Homo sapiens: one gene and its partner. The protein of the gene in region 1 interacts with the protein of each later gene in a biochemical or structural test. Each region holds a gene or a part of one and is shown on either strand. Other genes may lie near its edges. The genes, in order: PPP1R12A and DMPK.

Region 1 (5,306 bases):
AGTCCTCTATCAAAGTTCCAAAATCAAAAGTGCCTTTTTTTTTTTTTTTTTTTGAGACGGAGTCTCACTCTGTTGCCCAGGCTGAAGTGCAGTGGCACAATCTTGGCTCACTACAACCTCTGCCTCCCTGGTTCAAGTGATTCTCCTGTCTCAGCCTCCTGAGTAGCTGGGACTACAGGCGATTGCACCATCATACCTGGCTCATTTTTTATTTTTAGTAGAAACGGGGTTTCGCCCTGTTGGCCAGGCTGGTCTCAAACCCCTGACCTCAGGTGATCCTCCCGCCTGGGCCTCCCAACCATGCCTGGCTAAAAGTGCCTCTTATTTATAGATGTGTTAGCAGGTCGAACCTTGGACAAATCTAAATTGGAAAATGATCTAATATTAAAGTAAACTGTATGTTTCAATGGAATATTACCTTTATATGTATCGCTAAGCCTATGTTTGCAGATAAGAAAAAGCACAGGTTTACTTTAAGAAAAAAAAAAAAAACAATGTTTATGGAAGCGAAATCTTGTGCTACAAAGCAACTACCCTGAAACTCACTGTTATTAATTTTTACCCACTTATTATCATAAAAAAACTAGTTCTCAGATTCTGCATACAGACAGCTTTATGTAAAATATATAAACATTTGTCCAAATTGGTACACAGATTGCATAAATATGGCAATTAAGATTGCATTTACAGATGTGCATGTACAATGCTGTGCAAATTATCACAATATTACAATTTCAGAAATTATTCAAATTGGTATCCAAGTAAAGCAATTAGTGAAAAAATACCCATGCAGAATTTAAATATCTCAGAACAAAATTTAAAATGTCTTCATTAAAAGTTCACACATTTAAAATAGTTTTATTCATTTTATTTGTATATGTCAAAATACATTTTTATTTCCAAAATAGTGGGTTTTGCAACTAGTTTCATGCAGAAACAAGGTCTGCTCAATACTACCAATAAAATCAATATAGCACAGTAGCTGTTCAGTTTTAGATACAAAGAATAAATAACCTAAATACAAAACACTAAAATATTAGAAACATGTATTTAATCATTCTTCACAGGCATCCAAACTTCACAAATATAAACCATAGCATGCCTAACTGTTGTGCAACCAGAACATGTTGCAGTCACTCAAACTGATCAGTTATCTGTATATTTTACCTCCACATAAGACCATGGAAATTCTCAATATTCAGACCTACCATTCATACAGTTCAAATATAACCAAAAATAAAACTCCCACAACTATCCTTGTACCTTTAAAATCAAGAATCCTGAGCTTGGTAGTAAGAGCATAACCTTATATCTTCATAAAACCAATCGAGAGAGAGAGGACTTAAAATCCTGCTTACCAAAACACCCTTCCCCAACCCCAAAGTAATCTAAAATAGGCAGTAGAACACAATGACCTTTTAAAATGAAGGGGTACAAATTCACATTTAATATAGTATACAATACAATCAATAATACAATCAGCTACTATAAGCTTTACAATGTACAATTTATTCAAATGGCTGAACTGTTCAGTGGTTAAGGAGACAGTTATGTGCCAGAAAGATGTAGTATTTTTTGCATGGTTTAATGAAAATATAAAAGCTATTTGTCCAAATAAAAGCCATCGTCACTATGTACTTGGTTTTGCGCTTTTTTTTCCTTAAAAAAAAAAAAAGGCCACTGAAATGTATAAAATGGTCTGAACATGATGGTGGTATCAAAGTCGATGCCTCTTCACATGGCAATAACAGTGCATTTAACATTAACTCACGGGTTAATTCTGCAAATGATTTCATAGCATTACTTTGGCTAGCACAACAGTTTTAGACAGCACTCAGATAAATATAGGTATGTGAAATGTAAAGCAATTATCTTATGCAACTTTAATTATGGTTGAGTACTATCAAGTGAAAACTGAAAATAAAAGCACTTTACAGTAGGAAACTTTTGTAAAGATAGGGCTCCACATAATGTGTAACTTTTAAAGTCTTTATATCACATTGTTAGCAAATTTTGTTTTTTAACACTATCATGGAGTAGCCTACTCTGCATTAGCAGACATTTGAAATAAGAAATAGTCAAGCATGCCATGTGGTGGTCTAAAAATCAAAACAATACACTTATTTGTATATACAGCATCACTCAGTACCTGCTAAAATGAATGTGAAGATTACAGAATCTAACATCTTATACTACAATAAAAAAAAAGTGACCAATGAAGCAGAAAATAGGAATTAAAAGATCTAACCTCAAATGACTTTAAAGCATTCATATAAGAAATAAATGCATATTGCACAAACAGTGAAAGCATATGTTCCACCAAGCAATTCAGTTCCAGGTGGGAGACAACACAGCATTAGCCTAATACATGACAATAATCACAGAAGAGCAAGTGTTCTTTTCTGTAATGAAAAAGCTGTGAAAACATAGAAGACTCTGCCACATGAAGAGTTTAGAAGGAAAAAATACAAACCCAAACTTAGATGAAAAGCCAAAAAATTTAAATATCGAAAAACTCGAAACTGTGGCACATCAAAAAATGTTGAGTAACTGTCTTCTGTGAGAGCTGAAAGTTTTTGTTGACACAAAAGTATTTATGTACAACTAAGGCTTACTGGTTAAATATCTGAGGCATATCTGGCCTTGAACACTTTCCTTATATGCTGGAGCTGTAAACAAGTTTTCTCAGTCATTAAAAAAAAATCTTCTCAGCAGCTGCATTAACATGAAACAATGGTCTTGATTAAAAAAAAAAAACAAAAAACAAACCAACAACAACAAAAACACCCCAGAAAATTAAACAAAATGAAACAAAAATTCTAGATAAGAGGGCATTTGGCAGGATATCCGAAAATGACAGTCTCCAAGGATTCTTCCCAGACTTCCAGTGACTGCCAATTATGGTCCACTGGGTTACTAATATGTGCAATTCCATTACTTGCTGCTTTTTTTTTTTTTATTTGGAAAGTTTGCTTATAACTCTGATCAAGGCCCCATTTTCATCCTTTAGCCTCTGGTTGTCTGCTTTTAGGTCTGGTAACATCTATAAAGAGAAAAATTGAAGATCAAGTTTTACCTTCAATATTAAAAGATAAAACATTATTCTTAATAAATGTTATATTTTCACCACAAAACACATGATCAAGCTTTGTCAGTTATATATATTTCTAGTATCTAAAACATGTATCAGGAAGAAGGAAAAAAACCACACCTGGATTTGTAAAGCTAATTAGTTTCATAAATGCTGGAATGAAAGGTTTATTCTCTCCAAATTTTCCATTGAAATTTACTAAATCACTTGATTTTATGACTCACAAGCACACCACATTCCAGCAGCCAAGACAAGCCTGTTTTTGTTAGGATAGGCTCTTAAAAGAGGTTCCTGTCAGCACCTAAACCAAAGACTTTTGCTTTTATGTATGTCAGACCTAAAATCATAATACTTAATATTGTTCCACAAGAAAGTCAAACTACCTAGGAAAACATTGAGGAAATTAGACTTGTTCTAAATTATTAAAATTCCTTAAACGATTCACCTACAGTAGCTCAGTTTAAAATGCCTAAACAATGTCCGATCCCAGATAGATGCTTATTAAATGGTAACAAGCAATTACTATTATTAGAATAGTGCATCATGTTTAAGCTAAAGTAGAAAGTCTGTATCTATGATCCAACTATTACAAAAATAACCAATTTTGAAGCAAATAGCCTCATATCTTCAAACAACACATCTCAATTTTCTGTTGTTTTACAGACAAATTGATGAAGGGGTGAAAATATTACAAGTTAACTGAATACTCTACTAAGGATGATTAAAACTGTATGTTCTTTGCCAGTTTCACTAGGAAATGAAATAGCTCATATTTTTGGTCCCTAAACCATACTTTCCAAAATAGTCCTCTTTCCTCAGTTTTCAAAATGTATTAGTTTATCTAACTTGATAAAAGTAAAACTTCTATTTGCAAAACTAGGTAAAGCAAAATCTTTAAGAAGATTTAATTTTACGTGGAACCAATATGTTCTTATCTGTGTTCAGAATCTTTAAGATATAAAATATAGTAATATTAAGTTTATTCATTTGAATATTTGTAATATAAACTTAAATATAAACTAATGTGGTTCTGACTTCAAATGACATTATTTTGAAAAACATAATGCATGCTTAATCTTCAGCTTCAAAATATATTAATTATATGTAAAATGTTATATACTGTTGGTTTTCTCTCTAGTAAAGAACTGTAAATAATAGTCATATTTTAAGTCCTAAAATATCTGTATAGCTAAAAAATGTGCAAAAGCTTTACAAAAGTACAGATAAGTCTTTAACTTAAATTCCAAAATCATCCCTAATTTTAATGTAGCTCATCAATTGCAATATACAATTAGTGACAATTTCTAACATTCTAAGAAGCCATGCATAATTAGTTATATGATATGCTCCAGACACAATGGCATTAATTTGTAAAAGTGAGCTCTTACAAAACACGCCTACTAATATAAAAACACCTGCCTGGCTCTACCAAGAAGAAATGATGAAACTAAAAATTATAGGTTCACAGACTGCAGTTGCCTATAGAACCCTGAGCGCTTGGCTACCACTCTTGTCAAGGCCCTATTCTCAGTCAGCAGTCGCTCATTTAACTCCCTCAGAGATTGAATTTGCTTTATTTGGTGCAGGTTCTGCAGGAATCAGAACATAAAGAAATAGGAATAAAAAATAAGAAAATGGAAAAGAGTATAATAAGAATGTAATCACAGGTAATTTTTTAAAAATATTACGTCTTAAAGGAACAAGAGATTCAGAAAGGTAAACACTGTATTCCTAAAATTCTATTTCAAACTAAGTAATACATAAGCAAACAAAATACAAAAGATTTGTCTCCAATCTTCAAAGCCATTCAATAATGGTCTAATAACAAACCAAACAATTTAATAATGAAATATCTAAATCTTGAACTTCTAATTCTGTGGGTACAATATACTTACTATGCACTGGTTCATTAATTCACAATGTGATAAAGATTTTATGAAGGACAGTGTGGTAAGAGGTAATCAATTAACTATGCTACTTGTGAAGACATTCAAAACATAATTATTTCTATAGGTAATATGGAGTTTGATAAAATACAGCTCTGCCTGTTCACTCCCCTAATGTCCTTTACTTTCAAAGGAGAACATTTTATAGTAACCCCCTCCACTACTTACTCGCCAAAAAACATGAAAGTATATAGAAACATAAAGAATAAATAATAAATCCTACATCTTATTATTATTGTCTAACTTTTTCTATACCTGAACAGCAAAAG
Region 2 (8,246 bases), on another chromosome or scaffold:
CGTGATCCACCGCCGGTCCCCATTCACCAACACGTCCCTCTCCTCACGGAAGCACGACACCTGCAGGGCACCCGGAGGAGCTGCAGCCGGAGACGGGGCGCGGATCCTCAAAGCCCCCCACGTCCGCCCAGCCCCTCACCTCGCCCCTCTTCAGCATGTCCCACTTGTTCATGATCTTCATGGCATACACCTGGCCCGTCTGCTTCATCTTCACTACCGCTACCTGAGGTCGAGATAGTGAGACAGAGTGGAGACGGCGGGAAAACAAAAGGGCTCGCCCAGACCCAACTCCACCCGCTTCTGCACCCAGCCGTGGCCCCGCCCCACCTGCCACACCACGCCCATTGGTCCCAAGCCCCGCCTCCAGCCCAGCCCTAGGTTCTAAGGCTCGGTCATTCATCAATTTCTAAGGCCCCGCCCCAACCCCTATGCCCCGCCCACCACGAGTCAAGTCAGGCTCCCGCCCGGTTCGGCTTACCTCGCTGAACGCCCCGCGTCCGATCACCTTCAGAATCTCGAAGTCGTCCCTCTGCAGTCGGACCTCCTTAAGCCTCACCACGATGGGCTCCGCTGGGGGGGTGGTGGGGGAAAAGAACCGAGGGTCACCAGAAAGGGCACTGGAGACAAGGGGGAAAGCCCCACCCTCTGTCTGTCTCCCCTTCTCTCTGCCTCTCAGCTTCACCCTAGGACTGTCTGCTTCCCAGGGGCTTCCCCACATAAACACCGTGTAAGGTTCTGGGGGCCAAAAATGCCCTCCCATAGAGGTGAGATGCCTGAGAAGCCCTTTGCGGGACAGGGCATTGGCCCAGAGGGCTCCAAGGGTGTGCAGGATGGTTAGGGTGGGGTAACGGAGTCTGCAGAAGGACAGACCCTAAAGAACAAGGGGAGAAGGAAATAAGACCCAGTTCTTCCACCTTCCACCCTGACTCCAGGTGACAGTTCAGGTGCAGCCAGGGCCCCACCCCCACGTTCTCATGTAGAATGTCCTGGGTAACGGCCCAGACGTGGGGTTGTATCCAGTACCTCTAGATTCAGATGCAGGTGGTTCTTGAACCACACTTTGGAAAACCCTGGATTTGGGGCTGGGGGAAGGAACAGGACAGGGAGACAAAGGTAGCATGGTCACATATCCCAGACTCAAGTGCTCCGGTCCAGCCCATCTCTCAGTCCTCCAGGAGGAGTGCTTTAGTCCTACCCCTTATTTACAGATGACAATCAGGCCTCTCAGAAGTCAAGGTCCTATGACTAGGAATGTTAAACTGGGCAGCCTGGGTGGGGGACCAGCTGGGGTGGAGGCTTGTGGCTCAGGGACTGTGGGGACAGGGAGGCCTGGACTCCCGGGGGTGGAAGAAGTGGAGGCAGGATGGAGAGAGGGATGGGTATGGGAGGGGAGGGAAGGAGAGGAGACAGTGGGTTCTGGAGGAAAGAGAGGGGTTCCGGGGGGTTCCGGGAGAGTGGGCCAGCAGGGACGAACCAGCCAGGGCTGAGGACGGGGGAGGGAGGAGAGAGCCAAGACATTGAGCCCTTTTAAGGCAGCAGGAACCCTGGCCCCCTCCCCCGCCCCAGGCCTGGCAGGGGAGGGGCCGCGAGATGCAGCTCGGGCCACAAAAGGAGTGCTCCTCCCGGGAGCGCCAGACCCCTACCCCACCCGGTCTCAGTTTACCCTGCCAACCCAACTTCATCCTCTACTAAAGGGAGGCCAGGAGAGTCATTAGGGGCTGTGGGAGGTTGGGAGAAGGTTTTTCCAGAGGCTGAATGGCCTGGCCCTTCTTGGCCTCCACCTTCCCATCTGTGAAATGGGAGGAGGAGGGAAAGGAACCAGGCCTGGGTCAGAAAGAGATGGACACAAGAGGAAGCAGGGGAAGGCGGAGAAACAGGAAACAAGTGTCACACACAGTTTGTTACACACAGGCCAAAAACCAAACACCAGTCACTGAGGGCCAGACATATGAGGGCCAGAGGGGCAGGGTGCTGGGAATGAAAGAAACCAGTGACCAGTGAGCCCGAGTCCTGGGCTTGGGGAGGAGGTGGGCAGACAAGGCAGCTGGCAGAAGCGGAAGCATCCTCCTTCCAGCCCTGGCCCCAGGCCCTGGAAAGCCCTTGCAAGAAGGGGTTTTGTGGGACAGCTGGAAGGTTGGAGGCCCTGGGCCAGGAGAACTAAAGGACGCAGGGACCCGGGGTGGCGGGAATGGTGGCTGACCCACACGGCTCATAGGAACCGAGACTTTGGGGCTGGGGGTGGGGGTGGGTGCAGAACCTACAAAAGAAGGAGACACACCCAGAAGAACCCAAAGTTGTCCCTCCTGGATCGCAGAGGAGGGGGCACTGGTGGCGCCTGTCTGCAAAGCTGGTTCTCCCACAGGGCCCGCGTGAGTCACCGCCCTCCCAGTGCCTGGGCACCTGTTGGGGCAGCTGGAGAGGCTGGCGCCGAACACCTGCCTGTCGGCTGCGCCCCTGGCAGCTGCCCCATGCTGGCCCTCCTGGCTTGCCCCAGGCCACAGGAAACCAGGGGAGAGGGCCATAGAGCCCACTTTTGGGGGGAGGGTCCTAGGAGAGGGAGCTCCCAGCATGACCCTGACCCTGACCCTGAGGCGGGGTGCAGAGAGGCCATGGGAGGCTGTTGGCAGCCTAGCCTGCTGTGACTCCTAAGCCATGGCTCTGAGTCACAGCCACCCTAGCCTCTGCTGACCTTACTCTGCCCCTCCAGAGTGGTGGCATAGGACAGAGAAATGTTGCCCCAGGGCCCAGGTCCACACTCTGAGCCCCAGGATGGGAGGATCTCCCCATGCCCATCCTGCCATCCTGCCCCCCCAACAGCCAGGCCTCTGTGCCCAGACCTGTCTCCTGCCCCACCCCCACCCCATCTGCAGGAGCCCCGAGGGTAGGCACTCACCCCACTGCAAGAAGTCGGCCACGTACTTGTCCTGGGCCAGTTCGGAGGCGCCCAGCTCCTGGTGGACGCCCAGGAGAAGGTCGAGCAGGGGCTCCAGCCCCAGGAAGCCCGGGTCCAACACCAGCTGCTGGAGCCGCCTCAGCCGCACCTCGGCTGACATGTTGGACAGGCAGCACCATGGCCCCTCCCCGGGCCGGGGGCTCGGGGTCCTCCTGTCACAGGGCCTGGCAGCCCCTGTCCAGGCCCTGGAGCCCTGGCTGCATGTCTGCCTGTCCCTGGCTGTCCCCTGGGCCTCTCTGGCCACTTCTCTCTGCGGCCGGCCGAGGCCTCCTCCCCTTCTCCCCACCCCTTGGTCCAGCCCCCCTCCCGCCTCCCAGCCTTAACCCCTCACAAGCCAGCCCCCCAAGCTCCCTCCTTCCAGGGCCCTTCAGAACCCTTCAGTGCTAGAGTAGGGGGAATGCATGGAGAATCTCAGCTGTCACACTGTCACCCCAATAAAAAGGTAGAGCACAGAGGAAGCCACAGGTGTGATGAATTTCAAGAAGAACCTGCCCATTGCTGAAACAGGGCCAATTGAGGCTGAGTGACCCAGTAGCAACCACCCCCTTGCTCCCGACAAGCTCCAGAACTGGGGGCTAGGGGGTGAGGGCTGGGGGTTGGGGCTGGGTGGGAGAAAGGGGTTGAGGCCTGGGAAGGGGACGGGAGGCCAGGGCAGCTTCTTGGGTGACTCAGAGATGGATTCCGACTCGGACAGTTAAATTTAGCCCTCAGGCTCTCTGCTTTATACCAGCTTTTTTTTTTTTTTTTTTTTTTTTTCCCAGGAGGTGGGGAAGGGGTGGTGAGGACAGGACCAGGAGGGGGCACCCTCAGAGCCTGAACAGGGGTGACCTGCTGCCCAAAGGCTGGGGGAGGAAAGTGGTGGAGCCAAGCCCTCCCTGGGCAAACGAGACCCCAAAATAGCTCCTTGGCCCCTGGCCGGGGAGCCACATTCCTGCCCAGGCTGGGATTAGAAACAGAAACATTTCGGGGGGTGGAGGGTGGCGCGGGAAGACACACTCCCTGCGGCTCCGAGAGCCAAGAGGAATCTGAGCTCTTCTTTCCAGGGTGGACGGTTCTCCAGAGTGGAAGTCGGGGCCTCCAACCGGCCTGGGGTGCCTGGGCCTTGAGAGGGCCAGGCCTGAGAAACTAGGAGGCAAGGACCGAGGAGTCCCAGCTGGGCAGGGCCTGGGAAACGTGGTCCTGGGCAGTTCTGATAATTTAAAAAACACCGAGGACTTTGATGAGGGGCCCTGGCTGCGGGCAGGATGCTCTTCTCCCCAAGAGGGTCCTGCTCCAGCCGCTGGTGTGGGTCACCAGTTGTGTGACTCGCAGGTCCGTTCCCTCCCTGGGCTCCGGCTTTTCCTGCTATGAAAAGGGGTGGGAGGCGCTGGGCTGGGAGCAGGCCTGCACTCCTCCTCTGGGGAAAGCGGACTGCCTAGAACCACAGAGTACACACACAGGTCCTCTACATCATCTCCTCCGAAGGGGACAGACCCGCTGAGAAAACAGGGAACTTTAGTATAAATAAGAGGTCCTGCGGGACAGGGAGGAACCTGAGGGGCTTCCATAATTTAACACTCTTCAAAAGCACAGACAATAGCAAGGGCAGCTGGGGTGGGGGCCGGGCGAGGGCTGGACCACCCCCGGCCCTGCCCACTCAACTGAGGGGCACACTGCAGACCTGGGGCTCTTGTGGCAGGGGCGGGGAGTCTCTCCCCAGGAGTGACCAGTCACATGCTGGGGACAGGGATGAGGGTAACACTGATGTTTCAGAGGAAGAGGTCATTGTACTTGGCAGTGGGTGGGGGACAAGGCTGAGGCCACAAGGGCTATTACATCGCCCGTGTCCGGGCCAGTCTGGGGGGCCCCCAAATTTTGTGCAGGTGGGGGGACTGGAGCAGTCCATCCATCATGGTTAGTCTTGTTAATACGTTGATCTGTGAGGTCAGCAGGGAGGGTTATGGCTAGGAGGCTGGGGGCATGGGGTTGGGGGGGCCCGATATCCATGGCTTCACACCACTGTGCCACTCGGGGAGTTGCCTGGTTGGGAGGAGATGCCCTGGGGAAGATGAGAGGGAGAGATGGGAGGGGTTAGAGACCACCTGGGCTTCAGCCAGTGTCAAGGGGAGGGAGCCAGCCCAGAGTCCCCAAAGCTGCTGCCACCCTGGCCTTGCCCTTGGGTCCGCCCTAGACCCCCCAGAGGCCACTGCTCTAGGCTGGGAACTTGCATCTTAGCTAGCTTCCTGTCCTGGCAGTCAGCACTTTCACGCAATAATCAAAGTCCTTGGCGGATCCTGAGTGAGACCATGGGGTAAGGGTAAGGGTGGGAGGGGAGGGGGAAACTGGAGCTCCCTTCTAACTTGGGAGGGACCCTGAGGTGCTGGGGAAAGAACTCAGGGACAGTCCTACCTCTACCACTGACTTGCTGGGTGACCTGGGCCAACTTCCTTCCCCTGTCTGGGCCTCGGTCTCCTCGTCTGTGAACTACGGAGACAGAGGGGTCTCTTTTAGGACTCAACCAGACTCCCCAAATCCCACCACTCTTGCCTCTGAGTCACTCAGACTGTGCTCTCAAGTTCTAGGGACTCAGGACTCTACGATTCCAAAACTGAGGATCTGAGGAACCAAGCCACGGCCTCCAGGACCCTGGGCAACTGAGTCCAAGCCCTAAGAAGCTGAGACACCCAAGACGAGCTCCGAACTTACAAGATGCCAGGCCTGATTCGCCTACTATGACCTTCCCAACGCCACAGCCCACCCAGGAGGCAAGCACATCCACCCACTGCCCATCCTACAGGCTCTGTTCTAAGAGGTGATGAGTTGGAGGTCAGAGGGGGCAGTGACTTGTCCAGGGTCACAGAGGGAGTGGGACTGGAACCCAGGCCTGGGATTCCCAGCCTGTGCCTTCAGCAGGAGGCTCAGATCCTGAGTCCCAGACCCAGGCTGGCAGCCATGCCCACAGGCTTGAGCTCGCCCCTAGTTTTGGCCTGAAGTACTCAAAAAAGTTTCACGATTTAAAAAACAGATGTTCAACAGAAATAGATTCTGGTTCGAGTGACAGGCAGTAAGACCTGGCCATGTGGGGCCCATCTGCTGCCCTTCAGACGGCCAGCCTTGGATGCCCCAATTCCTAGCTGGCTCTCACACCCACCCCTCTTTCTGCTGCCTGCTGCCTAGGGCTAGACCCCCTCACTCTAAGGATCTGAGAGGTCTTGTACTGAGACACTAAGATTTCCCTGGCTTCCCCTCACCCCACGGAGCCAGAGGCTGTGACAGCAACAAAGCCCTCTCTCTGCCAATGCCTGCCTCTTCCCACGAAAGGTCCTGCCAGGTCCCCGGCAGGCTGGTGTGGGGCCACTCACCGCCTTGCCCGGCCGGGCCCAGGTGCAGATGAGGCCCTCCTGGCAGGCAGTGATGATGCAGTCCTCCAGGAACAGGAGGACTGTGAGCCGCTCCTGGGCGATCTTCTTGCACACAAGGGGCTCCAGCAGGGGCACCTCGTGGATGCGCGGGCACAGCGCAGTGCCCAGCACCTTGGCGGGGTCCAGGCGGCTGCGGGGAACAGGGCCGCTGGGCTTCTCCCCACCACTGCCACTGCCGCCACTGCCACCCCGGCTGATGTTGCCCAGGCTGTGGTAGCGCTTGTGCTCCTTCTCTGCCCCCCGGTCCCGCCGCTCCTGCAGTGTGAGCGTGGCGAAGCGGCCAATGCTGAATGGTGTGCCAGGCTCTGCCGCCACACCCGGGCCGCCCGCCTTGCCCCCGCCAGCTGGGTGCGGGAGACTGTTGGAGCGGGACAGCGAGCGAGGCAGGGGGCCTGGGCCAGGCTCGCCACCCCTCGAGCTGCTGGCGGCCGGTGGCGTGGTGCCAGGTGTGCCAGGGAGGGTGCGGGTGCGGGCCAGGGGGGGGTGCGGGTAGAGCACGTCTTCAGTGAGGTCCCACAGGCAGAACTGCGTGTCCTGGCCCGCCGAGCCAAAGCGGTAAGTAATGGAGCCAGCCTTGGGCAGTGGAGAGAGCGGGGCGCCCCCGGCCGAGCCTGTGCCCGCAGCCTCGGGCTCCTCCTCCTCCTCTTCGCCGCTCCGCTCCCCATCAGCACCGGCTGCTGTCGCCGCCTCCTCTGCCCTTGTGGTGTAGGGGTCAAAGGCCACAGCGTTGACCCAGGACTTGTGGCCATGGCCTCGAGCCACCACGCGGCCCTCGGTGAAGGACCACACGGTGACCAGGTCATCTTCGCCACCCGTCACCACGTAGCGGCCGTCAGGGCTCCAGCACACACACAGCAGGCCCCCAAAGTAGCTCTTCATGAGCCCACGCAGGAGCATGGAGTCGAAGTGGAAGACGCGCAGGCAGCCATCCTGGCTCACACAGGCCAGGTGCCGGCCATCGGGCGAGAAGGCGAACTCGTTGAGGGGCCCCTCACCCACCGCCCACTTGGCCAGCGGGTTGCGGGGTGCCTTGCTCTTGGCAGCATAGACAGAGAAGCCCTCGCCCTGCTTCAGCAGGCTGTACTGGGGCGGGGCCGAGGCGCAGGGGTGGCTGACGTTGTACAGGTACAGGTGGCCACTGGCGTGTGATGCCAGGAACAGGCTCTCCGACTCAGGCAGCCACTTCAGATATGTCACCTTGGTCTTGTCGATCAACCGCTGCCAGGGGAGACAGTGTGGGGTTGGGAGAAGGCAGTAAAACCCAGGCAGAACTTCTCCCCGACCCAAAGTCCCCAAGAAGGCCGTTGGACATGGCCCCGCTCACACAGCAGGTGCCACACCAGGCCCAGGTCCTCCTCGGAGAGAAGCTCCCAAACTGGGGAAGACAGATGGACACCAGGTCATGGAAACATGGGGAAACAGAGGCTGCTGCAAGGTGGCCACAGGGTGCTCCAAGGAGCCTCGATGTCCCATCTTTGGCGAGGGGACAGTCCTGCTTGCCACAGAATTGTCCTGTATCTCGGGGTCCTCAACCTCCGGGCCATGGAACAGTAGTGGTCCGTGGCCTGTTAGGAACCAGGCCATGCAGCAGGAGGTGAGTGGTGGGCGAGCAGGCATTACAGCCTGAGCCCAGCCTCCTACCGGAGCAGCGCACCATTCAATCCTCGTAAGAGTGCGAACCCCACCATGAACTATGCATGCGAGGGATCTAGGTGTGCGCTCCTTATTAGAATCTAACACCTGATGATCAGAGGCAGAACGGTTTCATCCCAAAACCATCCCCCCAACAGTCTGTGGAAAAACTGTCTTCCATAAGACCAGTCCCTGGTGCCAAAATGGTTGGGGACCACTGTATCTGTCTAACCCTCCCCCGATCTTTACTACGTCAGGCT

The links.
Region 2: of the proteins of PPP1R12A (region 1) and DMPK, one has a biochemical effect on the other in vitro, tested with the Homo sapiens proteins (one study listed by IntAct).

The regions. Positions count from the first base shown.
Region 1 is NC_000012.12:79,772,973-79,778,278, forward strand, and holds the end of PPP1R12A (protein phosphatase 1 regulatory subunit 12A), read right to left. Parts: intron 3,044-5,306; coding exon 2,957-3,043; 3' UTR 596-2,956; downstream 1-595. UniProt on the Homo sapiens protein: Key regulator of protein phosphatase 1C (PPP1C). Mediates binding to myosin. As part of the PPP1C complex, involved in dephosphorylation of PLK1. Capable of inhibiting HIF1AN-dependent suppression of HIF1A activity.
Region 2 is NC_000019.10:45,779,300-45,787,545, forward strand, and holds the start of DMPK (myotonin-protein kinase), read right to left. Parts: upstream 3,192-8,246; 5' UTR 3,073-3,191; coding exon of another isoform or gene 3,054-3,072; coding exon 2,894-3,053; exon of another isoform or gene 1,083-2,893; coding exon of another isoform or gene 1,024-1,082; exon of another isoform or gene 761-1,023; coding exon of another isoform or gene 571-760; coding exon 479-570; intron 321-478; exon of another isoform or gene 224-320; coding exon 140-223; intron 61-139; coding exon 1-60. Other genes in the region: DMWD (dystrophia myotonica WD repeat-containing protein), read right to left, coding at 4,944-4,991, 5,342-5,416, 6,295-7,572. UniProt on the Homo sapiens protein: Non-receptor serine/threonine protein kinase which is necessary for the maintenance of skeletal muscle structure and function.